2 separate regions of the Homo sapiens genome follow, and region 1 is linked to region 2. The links come from fine-mapping of genetic effects on gene expression. A gene starts in region 2. The other region holds a variant in brackets. All regions are shown on one strand. Distances are from middle to middle. Region 1 overlaps HK1 (hexokinase 1). Region 2 holds the start of HK1 (hexokinase 1).

Region 1 (8,000 bases), 21 kb before region 2:
GCTCAGCCAGGTGCAGGGGCTGATACCACTCCTCTGGGGAGGAGAAACAGACAATCCTCAGGGGGCCCTCCCCCAACGCCCCACTGCAGGGTATGAGCCACAGGATGCAGAGTGAAAGGATACAATTTTTCTTTCAATTCTACCTCCCCTCTGTATTTCTTTGTTTTGGGGGCTGCCTCAATTCTGCATCTGTGAAATCTGTCCAAAGGGGGTCTGGAATCTCTGCCTTTAAGTCTGAGACCCACCTGTCCATTAGGATTGCTATTATCTGGGATAAGAAGAGAGGGAAGCTTTGATTCCCTGATGGAGAGATTTCCCTAAAATGAACCCTTCATTTGTTCTGGAGTTCTTCATGTTCTGAAGACATAAGAGCAACCCACACAGTATCTGCGAGACCCATAAACACTACACTTTCTAAAGTATCACAAGCCACTAGACAGTAAAGTCAATGACAGCAGGTCAGCCTTGCCCAACCATGGTATCCCCAGTGACTGGCATAAGGTCTCAGTAGACACATATTGGATGGATGGATCAGCGGATGGATGGATGGATGGATGGATCAGCAGATGGATCAGCGGATGGATGGATGGATGGATGGGAGAGCAGATTGATGGAATGGTGAATGAATGAATGAGCAAATGTATGAACAAATGAAGTTAGAAGGAAGATTTCACAGAACATTTAGCCCTCAGGGTTCAATCTCTGGGTGACAGACTTACCAGAGCCATCAGGAATGGACCTTACGAATGTTGGCAACATCTTGACTGTGGCTGTTGGATTAAAATCCCGGGAGAGGCCATTCTTCATCTCCTTCCTGAAGCGAGTCATGATATCTATGAGAGTTTCATCGGAGAGCCGCATGGCATAGAGATACTTGTCAATCTGGAGGGGGATGAGAAGGAAGGAGAGTGAGGTCGAGGGGGAGGACAGGGCAAGGTGAGGCACCCACCCGCTGAGATAGCCAGCTCCCACAGGCACAGGAACACGCACGCTGGCACATCGCATGGCGGAAGGTCATTCAACTGCTGTCATCCATGTCACCCAGAACAGGCTTGCAAATGCTCTGAGCCCTAGTTCCTGGCCTGTAAAATGAACCCGATATCTCTAAGATCCTTTCCAACCCTCAAATATGACATGGAAGCTGCTCTTCAACCCCCAAGTACTTGATGGAGGTAGGTTTCCTCCAGTATCAGGAACACCTCAAGCCTCCTTCTCTCTCTGAGAATTGGCTGGCTCACTCTCACTGGGATGGGAATGACAGAGAGGCTACGAACAAGGGCTCTGGAGCCAGCCAACTGGGTTCAATCCTAGCCCCAGAGCTTAACAGCTGTGTGAATTTCAGTTTCCTCAACTGAAAAACTGAGATGATAGATAGGACCTAACATATAGGACAAGTTCAAATGAGACACAAGCACTTAGAACACAGTAACTGCTCAATAAACATCAGCTATTATTATTAACATGAGACAGTAGTACTGGCAGGTGTCCATGGGCAAGACTTCTAGAAAGACAGAAATGGCGGCCAAAGGGCTAGGACCCTTCTGAGAACACAGGGTGGCAGGCCCAGAGCACAGAAACCTTAAACCCAGCCTCAATGAATGGAGACAGCCCCTGGGCTCCCATACCCATGTGCCGGGCCTGTGTGCCAGGCCATGGGCCCTGCACCTCCGAGTCAAACTACTCCCACCCTTCACCAGGCCTGACCCAACCTGCTCCTCTTCCTGAGTTCCCCGTTCTCCTCAAGCTGCCCAGGCTCCTAACCTTAGGCACCCTGGGTTGTCACTGGCTATCACTAATTGTTTGTCCTTCATGGCATCTTCGCATTTATTCTCCCAAAAAAGGATTCACTGGGCACCAGCTAGGTGCCTAGAATTGAGCTAGACACCTGTCCTGATGGCACTATCCCTGTAGAGTCCACCGAGGAAGGTTCTTTTGTTTCACCATCCACTCTTTCTGCTGCTCTGTGTGCCTGGATTGCTGATGATCCACTGTAACAGTTTATCTTCAATCTCTTCCTTCCAACCCATCTTCTACACCACTGCAGCATCAGCCTCTTAAAGTGCAACCCTAATCAAGTCATGCCTCTGCCCAAAGCCTTGCAATGCCTCCCCACTGCCAAGGCACCTACCCTCTGCAGGTGTGGCTCTGTGCTCTCTGAACTCCGGCCAAACCACCTCTACCATTCCTAGTAGGTGCTCCAGGCTCTCCTCCTTCTGCTGTCACCTCTACCTGAAATGCCCTTCCTTTTCTTCCCAGCTCACCTAACCTTCAAGGTTCAAATCAACTGTCACTTCCTCCTGAAGATGTCCAAGTCCTTCAGGCTGGATATCACCACTCCTTCAGCACTGACCCCTAGGCAGGGTCTGGTCTGGATCCCAGCTTTCCATGCGTGTCACCCTGACCTCCCCAGTGCCTCACATGGAGCCTTGCACACAGAAGGCTCCCACTGGATAGAGAGACAGATTTACAGCCCCACAAGGCTGAAAAGACCTTAACACTGGTGTTTTTTCCTTTGTTTGTTTGTTTGTTTGTTTGTTTGTTTGTTTTTGGGGTTGGTTTTTTTTTCATAGTCTATCTCTGTCACCCAGGCTGGAATGCAGTGGCAGAATCTTGGCTCACTGCAACCTCCACCTCCCAGGTTCAAGCAATTCTCCTGCCTCAGCCTCCTGAGTGGCTGGGATTACAGGCGTGCGCCACCACGCCCTGCTAATTTTTGTATTTTTAGTAGAGACAGGGTTTCACCATGTTGGCCAGGCTGGTCTCAAACTCCTGACCTCAAGTGATCCACCCACCTAGGCCTCCCAAAATGTCTGCCAACACTCTCTGCGCCCAAGGATGATCCTTGCCCCCACTCCTAACCACTAGCCCTACCACCTTTTTCCCTTTACAATAAAGCAGCTCAAAGAAGGGCAATCAGGAACCACCAAGAGCCAGAATAGAAATTGCCAGAAGAGGCCAGGCATGGTGGCTGACACCTGTAATTCTAGAACTTTGCAAGGCCAAGGCAGCAGGATCATTTGAGCCCAGGAGTTCGAGATTAGCCTGGGCAACAACCCTGTCTCTACAAAAAATAAAAATTAGCCCAGCATGGTGATGCACACCTGTAGTCTCAGCTACTCGGGAGGCTGAGGCAAGAGGATCACTTGGGCCCAAGAGGTTGAGGCTGCATTGAGCCATGATTGAACCACTGTACTCCAGCCTAAGTGACAGAGTGAGACTGTCTCTAAAAAAAAAAAAAATTAACAATTGGCCAGGAGCAGTGGCCCACACCTGTAATCCCAACACTTTGGGAGGCTAAGGCAGGCAGATTGCTTGGGGCCAGGAGTTCGAGAGCAGCCTGGGAAACTTGGCAAAACCTCGTCTCTAAAAAAATACAAAAATTAGCCAGGCGTGGTGATACGCCCCTGTAGTCCCAGCTACTCGGGAGACTGAGGCGGGAGGATTGCCTGAGCTGGGGAAGCAGAGGTTGCAGGGTGCTATGATCCTGCCACTGTACCCCAGCCTGGGTGACAGACTTAGATCCAGTCTCCAAAAAAAAAAGAAAGAAAGAAATATGTATATATAT[T/AT]TTTTAAAGGAAATAAAATTGCCAAAAACATGGCCCTGGGAGGAGAGACAAGCCATGCCCTATTCTGGCTGGTGGCATTCATCAGCAGCCCTTGCCATCATAGTGCCCTGGGTCTGCAGGGAGAGACAGCCACGTTGCAAGCATGGGAGAGAAGGCTTCCTGGAGAGGCGAAGTTGGAGAGCATGCCCAGGCACAAGCAAGGGCATGTGTGAAGTCCGAAGGGGAGGGAGGGTGGTTTTTGTGATGAACAAGCAGACGGTGTGCCTGGAAAGACTGTCCAGAGCTCAACCACACAGGGCCTGATGAGCCACATAAACAAATACAAGCGGGATCCCACAGCACAGCGAGCCTTGGGACGGCTTTACTGATTACAACCATGATGAGAGTTGTGTGTCTGCTGCGTGGAGAATGGAGGAGCAAGCGCAAGATCATACAATAAAAGCTACATTGCTAGCTGGCACAGTGGCTCATGCCTGTAATCCTGGCACTTTGGGAGGCCGAGGCAGGAGGATTGCTTAGGCCCAAAAGTTCAAGACCAGCCTGAGCAACATAGTGATATCGCACCTCTAAAATATTTTTTAATTTTAATTTTAAGGCCGGGAGCAATGGCTCATGCCTGTAACCCCAGAACTTTGAGAGGCCGAGGCGAGTGGATTACCTGAGGTCAGGAGTTCAAGACCAGCCTGGCCAACATGGTAAAACCCGGTCTCTACTAAAAATACAAAAATTAGCTGGGCATGGTGGTGCATGCCTGTAATCCCAGCTACTCAGGAGACTGAGATATGAGAATCGCGTGAACCCAGGAGGTAGAGAAGATTGCAGTCAGCCAAGATCGCGCCATCGCACTCCAGCCTGGGCAATGCAGCAAGACTCCATCTCAAAAAATTTTTTTTAATTTTAATTTTAAAAAAGGTACATTGCTACTCCAGCATTTTGGACACGCCCCAACGACCACACTCCTCACACATCATGATTATCCTTTTACCAAGCTGTCCATCTCCTATGATACTGCGTGAGTTCCCCAGGGAAAGAAAACATATTGAATAGACCTTTGGAACTCACCCAGTTGCTTGACACAAAGGAGGAATTCAAACAATGCTGGATCCTGGAATAATACTATATAATTCTCTTGTGGCTTACAGTATATCAGTATATCAAGATCCAGTATGTCATTTAACCTTCAAAACTGTCTGGGAGATGTTCTTAATCCCCATTTTACAGACACAGAAACTGATGGTCCAAGAAGCTAAGTGATTAGTTCAAAGCACACAGCTGGGGGAGTGAGGTTTTATACCTGCAAGTCTAAGGCTCCTCCATACAATCATCCCTGCCCCTTAAGAAAGACTGGTCCCCTGCTCTGCAGAAGGCAGATCCAAGTAGAGCTGTTGGGGTTTTCCCGCTGGACAGGAGAAGCTTCTAGAAAAGGCAGCTCTCCATAACTCCACAGCTATCCTGCCTTCTAAGTCAAGGTGCAGCTCAGCACACAGACATTGATCCAAAAACCCCAACGTTTCAGGACAACCAAGCTAAATCCAAATAAAGCTTAGAAGCTCAAATCAAAAAGCAGGCTGCAGACACAGAGAACGGCCTGGTCCTCAAGCTGCTATGGAGGGAGGGTTTTCCTCCTTTTGTTCAGGTTCATGAGTCGTCATGAGGTACAACCCCTCTCAGAAGAGACATGAATACTGGGGCCAAAAGGGAGGCCCAATTGAGGCAAGGCCGGAACTGAAACTGGGGCCTCCTGGATTTTACATGAATGAGGACAATGAAGGGAAGCCCTTTCTTTCCACTGGTCCTCGGGAGATCAGAAGGGGCCACTGAACCAGCAAATACCCTAGGCCTGGGGCTGGGCTGCCAGGGGAGAAGTCAGCTCCCTGGTATCTGCCACACTGCCCAGCCAGGCAGGCACCTGGTGCAGGACTCAGCAGACATGCCCCTCTGGACTGTGGGCCTTTAAGTGGCCCGGAGGCACTGGAGAAAAGCACATGACTAGAGACACCTGCAGAAAACTTCCAGGGGCCCAGAGAACCCAGCACTTCACTGAGCAAAACGCATCTTCCTCGTTCAGACCAGCCCCTCCTGGCACTCCACTGGACCACGCCTGTCTCCCTGGGAAAGAGGCTGGGAATGGGCAGTGGGTTGAAGGAGAGAGGGAGGAAGAAAGGGCATTGGAGAAATCTCTCCTGCCCAGTTGCTCCAGATCTCTGCCAGAAACCCAGGAAGAAAGGCTGACTCTTGGTCTTTGGGGATTTGGCCAAAGTCTGGCCTTTCAACTTTTCTATTTCTGTCCTCCTCTCCACAGCATCTCCAGATCTTTACTCTCCTCCTTCCTTTTCCCCTCTTCCCTCTCTCTCTACACACACACACTCTCACATACACAATCTCTCACACACACACACTCTCACACACTCACACATACACACACAAGTACTTACACACACACACACACACACACACACACACTCACATCTCCATAATCCTGTCCCCTTCTCTTAGGTGCTGCCTCCACATCACCGCTGCTTTACTGCTCCAGCCAAACATCAGTGCCCGAAGAATCCCTCCCCACACTCCATTTGGGAGTTGGGGAGGACACCGCACAGCACCACTTCCAGCTGCTTCCACTGCAAGCCTCGGTCTGTGGACCATCTATCAGAAGACAGAGGTTCCCAGGAGTCATGACAGAAACCCAGGCCCTCAAATGCTCCCTCTCAAACCAGTGTCTGAGACGAATATGTGGGACTCTGGTCAGTCTGGTCAGGCTGGGATGGAAATGGGAAGGCGCCCAGTCCCAGACACCAGACATCAGACACCGAGCTGGGTCCCTCAGACTCTTGCCTGAGAACCCGCATCCAGCCTCCAGGGCCTCTGTCCACCGCTGCCCAGAGTGAAGAGCCCTTCCTATGAGGGTAGCCAGACCGGCTGCACAGGGCGGGCGCTCTTGCTCAAACACTTTCCAGACACTTGTCCTGGATTCTCCTTCTTGTGGACCAAGGGGGCCTTGAAGCTCTCAGCGGCTCCCAAAGTTGGACCCCCGCAGAGCAGGAGGACATGTCATCAGCAGAGAACACACAGCCTCGCCAAGCTTCCCTGGCTCAGAGCCCTCCAACCAAGGAAAGAACTCAATGGCCTAGCACTGCAATCAACTCACAAACATTTCTGTGCCCGACCCCAGCCCCACCTCCTGCTCCCAACAGAACATGCACAAAAAACAAACGCAAGATTGGACATGCCCAAGTGAACAGGCCGGTCGCAGCAGGAGGCACCAGTAACCACTGGTAACCATCCCAGCCATTTTCACCCCACCCCGTGGAAGGGTGCACAGCCATGGAAAATTTCACTCCCTCTCTCATCCACCCTCCCGTGAGGATCGAGAATGCTGCAGAACAGCAGGCGTGACTGAAGCTGCTGACGCAGGCCTTTAAAATGAACTTTCCAAGCAAGGCGCTCCACTTACAAAAGGAAATTGTGGCGTGCACCCTGAAGGGTTAAGAAAGATGTTAGCTTAGGGGAGGACAGAGATTTCAACATCAGAATTCACTTCCCTTTGCTAAGGACACTGACTCAGAGAGAACGGGTCCTGGGTGCTTATTAACATCACAATTAGCAATGGCTCACATGTGCACTGGCCCTTCAGATACAGGACCTTCACATACATTATCCCATTTGAACTGTGTAGAAAGAAGTGAAATGAGCTTGTGGATGCCAAGTGCCACGCAGGAAGCAGGTGCTTTAATGCTAGTTCCCTTTCTCCTGTCACTGCAGCCCAGTGAAGTAGGCAGGAAAGACATCATTATCTCCATTATCTAGGAGAGGAAACAGACCCATGATTCAAGCTAAGTTGGGGAGTTTAGAAATGGCAGCTGGGTCTAGATTCCAGGGCTCGTAACCTCCCATTTGGGGCTTCACCTTAAGCATTTCCATTTTCCTCACATGGTGGAAAGTACACAGGGCTGTGGACAGAGAGCTGGGTTCAAATCCGATTTATTAGCTGTGTGACTTTGGACAAGTTACTTAATCTCTCTGAGTCTCACTTTTAAGATGGAGATAATAAATCCTCCACTTCAGAGGGTTATGGGGAGGATTTTAATGTGCAGAAACAAAGTAAGCATCAAGTGTCATTTCCCTCCCTCCCATCCCTAAGTGACATAATCATGTACCCCTAACTCCTTTCATCTCAATGCCTGAAAAATACATCTACCGGCCAGGCACGGTGGCTCACGCTTGTAATCCCAGCACTATGGGAGGCCGAGGCGGGTGGATCACTTGAGAGGTCAGGAGTTCAAGACCAGCCTGGCCAACATGGTGAAACCCCAACTCTACTAAAAATACAAAAAAAATTAGCCGGGTGTGGTGGCAGATGCCTGTAATCCCAGCTACTTGGGAAGCTGAGGCAGGAGAATCACTTGAACCCAGGAGGCAGAGGTTGCAGTGAGCT
Region 2 (8,497 bases):
CACGCCCGGCCAGCAAATATTTTATGCTCCATGAGAACTGGGACCGTTTCTGCCTTGTTTATAGTTGTCACCCCAGCCTAGCACAGTCCTCTGCACATAATAAAAAAATCAAACATTTTTTAAAGAAATGATTGAGCTCCTGTGATCAGATTTGATCTTCAGGGTTTTCAAATCAATAAGCATACTTAGGGAGGCCAAGGCGGGAGGACTGCCTGAGCCCAGGAGTTCAAGACCAGCCTGGGCAATATGGTGAGACCCTGTCTCTATAAAAAAATAAAAACAAATCCATAAGCAGGTGCCAGCAGTCTGACCACAACTGATTCCTGGATGCAGAGGTATACAGCTCCCTGTCTTTATCCATGTCTTCCCTGGACCTTCTCAGGCATGCTCAGAGGTGATTCCAGTGGCTAAATCTGTCTGCCAGGAATCCCTGACTGCAGACACACACAGACAGTCCCAGTCATGCCAAATCAGTCTTGTAAGGGGAAAGCTGCCTATGTCTTCTCCGGAGAACAGTAGGAGCGTGGGAGCATGGCACAGCTTGGCCAGATGTGAAAGCACCTCACAGACACCCTGCCTGCCAGTTTATTCCTTCATGACATTCCCAAACTATCCAACCAGATAAAGTGATGGGGCTTCTCTTGGGAGAAACCCTAGGAGTATCTAAGGTAGGAAAGGCAGGGATTATAAAGTCAAGATTCACCAAGAAGCTCTCACTGAATATTTGTACAACATCAGAATTGAGAGGTTATGAGACACTTCTCATAATTTTCTTTCTTCTTTTTTTTTTTTTTTTTTTGAGACAGAGTCTCGCTCTATCATCCAGCCTGGAGTACGGTAACACAATCATAGCATCACAGCTCACTGTTTTGGGATCAATCTTTTGGGCTCAATGAGCCTCCTGAGTAGCTGTGACTACAGGTGTGTGCATGCCACCAAAGCAGGCTAAAAAAAATTTTTTTTTAAGATGAGGTTTAATTTTGTTGCCCAGGCTGACTTTTCATAATTTTTTCTTTTTTTTCTTTGCCACTGCAAGAACCCACAGATTTTTCATAATTTTCTTTTTTTTTTTTTTGAGACAGAGTTTCGCTCTGTTGCCCAGGCTGGAGTGCAGTGGCATGATCCTGGCTCATGCAACCTCCGCCTCCCCGGTTCAAGCAATTCTCCTGCCTCAGCCTCCCGAGTAGCTGGGACTTCAGGTGCATGCTACCACGTCCAGCTAATTTTTGTATTTTTAGTAGAGACGGGATTTCACCATATTGGTCAGGCTGGTCTTGAACTCCTGACTTCGTGATTCACCTGCCTCAGCCTCCCAAAGTGCTGGGATTACAGGCATGAGCCACTGTGCCCAGCCAGATTTTTCACAATTTTCTAACTATCACCTCTCTCACCCCTGAGCAATAATGAATGGGCATTTTTTTTTTTTTTTGAGACGGAGTTTCGCTCTCGTTGCCTAGGCTGGAGTGCAATGGCGTGATCTCGGCTCACCGCAACCTCTGCCTTCCAGGTTCAAGTGATTCTCCGGCCTCAGCCTCCCAAGTAGCTGGGATTACAGGCATGCGCCACCACACCCAGCTAATTTTGTATTTTTAGTAGAGACGGGGTTTCTCCATGTTGGTCAGGCTGGTCTCGAACTCCCGACCTCAGGTGATCCACCCGCCTCAGCCTCCCAAAGTGCTGAGATTACAGGTGTGAGCCACTACATCGGCCTTTTATTTATTTATTTATTTTTAATGCTTGCTTTTGCAGCTGGAACACATAGGCTCTAAGGAATGTACCTTGGGCAACCCTTTAATTGCTAAGCCTACTCTCCCCTGTCTTCCTGGGTCAAGTACTCAAGGACTCCTGAGTTCGGCCATTGGACAAATCACACTCTCTTCAACAGCACCCATTAACCAATTTATGCAGATGCCGTCTGGATAATGGGGTTCCAAACTGGGAAGTCAGACACCTGAACTGTTTCAACCCAGGATATATTTTTATGGAGTTGAATTATTGATGTGCCTCAAGGCAATGAGGAAAGAAATGACACCCTTTTCATGATCACCTACTAGTGGAAATCACTTAGCGTTATGGGGATCTCGCCCAGAGAAAATCCACTGGCATTTGCTCACCATTCTGACAAGCCTGGAGGAAAGGAAGTCTAATCTTTCTTTAGAAGCCAAGTTCTGACCTTCCTGGACCCATCTTCCCTTTCTAAACAAACAGAGCACTATGCAATCCTTCACCCTGCTCCAAGCTCCTAATGGCTAAACCGAGTGGAAGAAGCTGGCGAGATGAGATGCGTGTTTAAAGTTACTTAGAGGTCAAAGAACCCAGCCTCTAGCTGCAGAACTGGCAGATGTCTGGGATTCTGATGAATGGAATCCTTCACAAGCACACATATGCCTCCCTTTCCTCCTACAGGCACTAGAAGAGTGAAAGGAATATATGTGTTTTGTGCTTAGCTCAGCCTAATGCCAGTACACCCTCTTCAACAGCACCCATTAACCAATTTATGCAGATGCCGTCTGGATAATGGGGTTCCAAGCTGGGAAGTCAGACACCTGAACTGTTTCAACCCAGGATATATTTTTATGGAGTTGAATTATTGATGTGCCTCATAGGCAATGAAGAAAGAAATGACACCATTTTCATGATCACGTTTGGATTCTAAGCAATCCCAAAAACTTCCCCGGCATGGTCCCCAGCTTCCCTTCTCCTACCTCTGGCTCTGAGGGCAAGAAGATAGATGAGAGTTACTGAGGGATGCCAGGTCTGTCTCCAGAGCCCCGGAGGCTGCCTACAGCTGGAGGGCTGAATCATCATGGCTGCCCACGCTGGGGGGGAACCATCCTCAGCAGGTCCCTGCTGGGAGGCAGGCAGAGTCCAGCCCCACAGGAAGAACAGGGGGTCCCGCACCTTCACCTAGCCTTTCCTATGGTGAGTGGTACGTGGAAAGAGCTGGTCTCTAAGAAATCCTGGGCCCCAGAAGAGCAGATGTGGTCCCCAGCATCTGCACACTTGGGCAAAACTGAGTAGGTCACTGGAGCAAGTACCCACTATGTCACTGTCCTTAGAAGGCCCAGGCTGGAGTGCGGTGGCGCAATCATAGCCAGGACCACACCCACAGATGGCTGTGCCACACAGTCCACTATGCAAAATGAGTGGACCCCCTGGCAGGAATCCACGTACTCCCCTATAGAAAGCAGCATAGGAAGTCCGTGGTGAAATGCAAGCAAACATCTTGTTTTTAAGAATCTCCTTGACAAATAATATCTGGTGGAAACCTTGGCCTTAAGACCTTCCTCCAGCAAGGTTCTCGGGGAAGAGAAGGGAAGAACATCAGAATCCCAAACTCGGAGTGAGGAGGGATGGAAGGGTCAACTGAATCACACACTCAGGTACCTACGGGGGCCTAGGAGATAGACTGTGCATCCATAGATGTGAATTGAGCCACCCACAGGAGTGGAGAGCTCTGGGCCCACCCTAGACACTGTATGTCTGAGAAAACATGTCCCACTGAATGGAGTCCAAACCTCAGCCCAGCTCAGCTGCTGGAGGCCACCGGCAGCCAACAGCCAGCAGTCTGTTGTGGGTGGTGGTGGGTGTGGACACTGGAGGTTTACAAGGTCACCCAGGCACCCCCCAGCCCAGCAGCCCACTGTCTTGAGCTATAAAGGACACCACGTGCAGGAGGACAGTGAACTCTTGGCTTCAGGAGGCCTGTTCTGGGCACTTCTTGCCATGCCGGGAGAACTGTCTCCCTGGTCCAATGGGAAGAACATCAGTGATGCACAACACCACTAGAGAAAACTCATGAAATGCACACACCCGCACGCACAGCTCCCAGGTCAGTGGCCAGAGGGAAGCTCCAGGGTGCTCCATAGGAGCAAGTGTTTCGAGTGCCACGGTTTGACAACCCCAGAGTGCTTAAAGCCATAAAGAGCAATGGCAGATGGCATTCCCAAGCCTATCTCCTACCTACCTCACTCCCGGTCCCCACCCACCATGGGATCCAAGATCACGGCAGGGTCCCCAGCGGCTTTGTCTCTCAGTACCCACTCCCTCCTGGAAGCTGACCTCCAGGAGGACCCTGGTGAAGTTCCTGGGTGGAGGCACTGGGAGACCTGGATCCCCCTGACTGGCTCTGCCTCTAACTCACTGGGTGACCTTGATAAGGTCGCTGCCCTCAGTAGGCCTGTTTCCTATGGTGCCAGATGAGGGAGTCATCTTAGATGCACAGGAAGAGGATGGAACACCCTATGGCTTGCCGGGCAGAAAATCAAGGCCTGTCACTCCTGCCTTTCACCTGTAGAACTCCACCTGTCTGAACGCCAAAGTCAAGATGACTTTGCCAGTCCATCCCAGCTAACCCCAGCAATAACGTCACCACGTTCAGGGTGGGTGGGCCTGGAGCCTGTACCAGACCTGGCACTGATAAAACGGGCGTCTTTCCCTACAGCTTAGGCTGTTTCTTTAAAATATGGTAGCACAGCTGGCAGAAGAGACAAATACACCTTTAAGACCTGCCAGCGGACAGTATTTTACACTAAGATGTCAAAGGCAACAACACCTCAGGACAGGAGGATGCATGCGTCCAAGTGCTAGAACAAGCATGCCACAGGCGTCCACCCAACTCAAATGACCAGTCGCTTATTTGAGCTCCTGTGCTGGCTAGAAATTACAGCTTAAGAGGAATAAAAAATTCCATTCAGACGTGCCGCTCCAGACACGAGGCCTATGAGCAAAGTTTCCGGTGGCCTCGCCGCCCCTCCCCGTTCCGGGAAGCCGGGCGGGTCACCTCGTCCTCAGATTAACGAGCAGCTCAAACAACTGGGAGAGCCCGGCGACAGCTTCTCCGGGGCACCCGACACCCTCCGCCAGGAACCCCAAATATGGGAGGCCTGGCCTCCAGCCAGCACCCCCGCCTGCTGCTCGATCACCTCCCCAGCATCTCCATGATCACACCTCCTCCCACGGCGCTCGGACCCTCCCGAACAGGCCCTGCGGAAGGGCCCACCGGCCACCTCCCCGCACAGCCCGGGGGCCTATCTGACATCCAGGGCCCGTTTCAAGGACACTGCAGCAGGCAGCCCGGTCTCGGGGGTCTTCCGCCCGATTGCCCCCCTCCCAAAAACGCACACACACAGAGACACTGACAATGCCGGTAGAATCGAAGGCGAAGGCTTTCCTTGCGCCCTGCAGTCCAACTCGATGCTGGCCCGGAGAAGGCCGGGCGCCGGAGGATGGAGGCAGCGGAGGCGGCGAGCGGATGCCGGAACGCAAGGCTGCGGCCAGGACCAGCGGCGGCGCGGGCGGGGGCTCACCTTTTTGACCTGGTCATCCTTCAGCTCCGTGAAGTAATAGGCCAGGAGCTGCGCGGCGATCATGCTGGCGGTCGGGGTCGCGGGGCGGCAGGCGTGGGGACGGTCGGTCCTCCGCAGCCCTGGCGAGCCGTGGTCCTCCGGCGGCTGCTCGGCGGCTCCTCCTCCTCCTCCTCCCCCGGCTCCTCCCCCTCGGCCCGGGGCGCGGCGACAGCTCGCGCGCTCCCGGTCTCCGCGCTCCCGTCCCCTGGAGGGTGACAGCCGCCAGCCGACCCACCTCCTCCACGCCCATTGGTTGCGGCGCGCCTCTGCAACGCCCGGCGGTGGCGTCCCGGCCGGGGAGCGGGGACGCGGCGGCCGCTCCCTCCTGCGCCGGAAAGGGGGCGGGCGACGCAGCGAAATCCCCCCCGACCCCGCATCATCCTGCACGTCCCCCACGTAGGGAGCCGATGCGGGCCTTCACGCGTGGCGGCGCCGTGCCCGGGTGGGCCGTGCCAGGCGGGGAGGTGCGAGGCGCAGGCAGGAGGCACCGCCCGGCTCCGCCGGGACGAGAAGCCCCTAGGGCTAGTCTAGGGACTGGCAGCCCCGGGGGCACGAAGGCGGTCCCATTCCTCGGAAATGAGGGCTCGCCCCTAGGAGTCCGGTGGACGCCGAGGTGCCGGAGGGGACTTGCAGAAGTGGGCGTGGAAAGCGGGCGGAAGCGGGAGCCGGGGACGCTACGCAGTCCTCGCACCCGGGTCCCGCGCCTTCCTCACCCAGGCCGAACGCACCGGCCTACCTGGGTCTTCAGCGGCAGTGCATCACCTCTCCCCGGCGTGCCCCGCCTAATCTCCAGCTGGCAGATTTGTATTGCTGAACCCAAAGCGACACCCCAGAGCACCCGCCCCCGAGTCACCAGCTCCGGTGGCTCTCCCTCAGGGCGCACTCCCTCTGGGCGGGACTTGGGCCACAGGTCGTGGCCTGTCCCCATCCTCTGGGCCTCCTCTTGCTCTTGGGCATCCAGGCCCACTGGGACTTGGGGCACGGTTCAGCGCCCCTTCCCAGGTGCCGTGTTTTCTACTTTCCCAGAGGAAGTTACGTAGGATGGGAGGACTCCCTAGAGGTGCTACCAGGACAGCCACTTTAGGATTCTTAGATTAATTATTTCTGTGTTCCGGAAGCCTCCAGGAGCTTTAGTGCCTTACAAAATGACATGTAATGAGCTCAAATATACAAACAAGTTGTTGCTATTCTGGTTAGACAGGTAAGGAAATTGAAGCTCAGTGAGGCCTCAGTCTTGCTGGACTTTATACAGCCAGGAAGTTGTAGATCTAGGATCACAGCTTGGATCTGTGAGTCTTTGAAGCAGGTGCTCACCTCTAGGGTTTGCTGTGGTCCCAGTTGTATAGAGCCCCTCTGCCTAAATAGGTCACTTTCCTGCAACCAAGTCTGCACCATATGGTGCCCTGAGATCCAACCCCCAACCTCTACCCTAGCTCTTGACTTTAGGAGTCCCTAGCCCTTGACCAGGCCTAGCAAAGGTACAGTCAAATCAGAGGGAGGGATGACGTAGGTTCAGGGGCCTGACAGCCACCATCACCCACAGAAAAGGAGGAGCTTAGATGCAGTCCTGAGGCCCCAGCTTCCTGTCCAGGTCACAGTCCCCACCCCCTGCCTTAGGGCCTATGCAGAGGGGCATCTTGAATCACCTCTGAGACTGTGTCTTCATCCATAAGATGAAGACACTAATGCCCACCTCACCTCCCCTTGATTGTTGTGTAATACTGTACGCAAAATACGTGCACATAATACACACTTAAGGAATGGCAGGTATCATAGAACTGACTGAAAAGTTAATGCGGTTAAAGCTTCAGGGACTCTCACTTTCATTCCTACCCTTCTAGGCCCTGGGAGGGCCTAGCAGTGTGATATTTGTATATTTATATTTGAATTATTTTCCATAGAGAGTGCCAATTTATTTAATTTTCAAGCCCAACAAAACCTGGATTTGCCCTGGATCATAATTATAAACCAGGAAGAGAGAGATTTTCTGGTACACATCAAACATTTGGAACTACCTACATGGCCGTTAAGCAAAATGGAGTGAATGAGAACAAGATGGTTGTTCTCAACTGCCATTTCATTTGAGTTCTGCAGATCTGCCAAGCTCACAGGGCTGGAAACTCCTTGAGGATGGAGGACTATGTTTTGCTAATTGCTCTGTCTCCTACACAAGCGCAGGGCCTGGCACTTGGCAGGCTGAATAAGCCTAATGCATAATCAAAAACATGGCCCTTAACCCAGCCACCAGCCGGTGCCATCACCCATGCCCAACCCGTTGTTACAACTCCTATCTGAGCTGGAGCCAGGGAGAAGCTGACGCTTGGAAGAGCCAGGTTACCCTGAAATGTCCTGTTTGCAGGCAGGAAAGCTGCCTCTGCTTTGTCTTCCCTGGCCTTTGAGAGGGAAACTGCTTCTCAAGGTGACTCATTCCTCCCCACTCCATGAATGCAACCAGGCCCCAAGGCCTGTCAATATTTCCTGAGAAATGTCTCTAGGCCTGACCTATTGCCACCTCCCAACTCCCAGTCCATCTCCCTGTGCCAGAAATATTACAAGAGTCTTCTAACTGTCCTCCTCGGCTCCTGGCCTCATGCCATCCAAGTCATTCTGAGCACCAGGTCACATTAATCCTGCTAAAATGCAGCATAATCATGTCATGACCCTTCCCTAAATCCCTTCATGGCCCTCTCCTTCCTGAGAGAGCCAATTTAAACATCTCTGCCTGGTTTCCGAGGCCTTCTGTAATCGACTCCACTCTTTCCCACTTATCTCTTCCTCCACTCTGGCCGCAACAAGGCCACTTCCCACCATCCTCTGCCCCCACCATGTCCACTCCATTTGTTCGCCGCTCATATTCCCTTCCTTGCCCTGCCTTCTCCACTCACCTCTGCCTGACCAAGCATCCCCTCTCATCTAAGGCCCAGCTTGCCAACCTTCCCTGGACCACAGCTACTCACCCCAATCTCCCAGGCCTCAGCACCTCGACAGGGCAAACTCAGGCTGTGCTCACAGTCCATCTGGATATACACCCAGACTCCTCTTTACAGGGCAGGAACCTGGGATGCCACAGGTGGGCCATCTTGCCCAGTGTCAGGTTGTGGTAGAGTTTTGAGCCAGGACTCCAGCCTAGTCCTGATGCCCAGCCAGTG

Evidence for each region. PIP is the estimated chance that this variant, and not a neighbour inherited with it, causes the effect. A credible set is the group of variants that fine-mapping cannot tell apart.
Region 1: its variant is the best candidate, but not a certain one, in a credible set for the expression of HK1 in monocytes (Fairfax 2014, PIP 0.54).

The regions. Positions count from the first base shown.
Region 1 is chr10:69,336,709-69,344,708 of GRCh38, reverse strand. HK1 (hexokinase 1) reads right to left here. Exons shown (of 18, transcript NM_000188.3): 2 at 720-882. Among named protein-coding and RNA genes, the nearest start is that of HK1, 22 kb to the right of the region's middle. RefSeq lists enhancers at 439-1,292, 4,881-5,566, 6,255-6,940, 6,941-7,628. The variant T/AT (reference allele first, on the strand shown) is at 3,566.
Region 2 is chr10:69,315,823-69,324,319 of GRCh38, reverse strand. It overlaps HK1 (hexokinase 1), which reads right to left and starts at 5,473. Exons shown (of 18, transcript NM_000188.3): 1 at 5,310-5,473. The coding sequence starts at 5,372. RefSeq lists enhancers at 2,388-3,304, 4,890-4,939, 6,230-6,459 and a silencer at 5,240-5,919.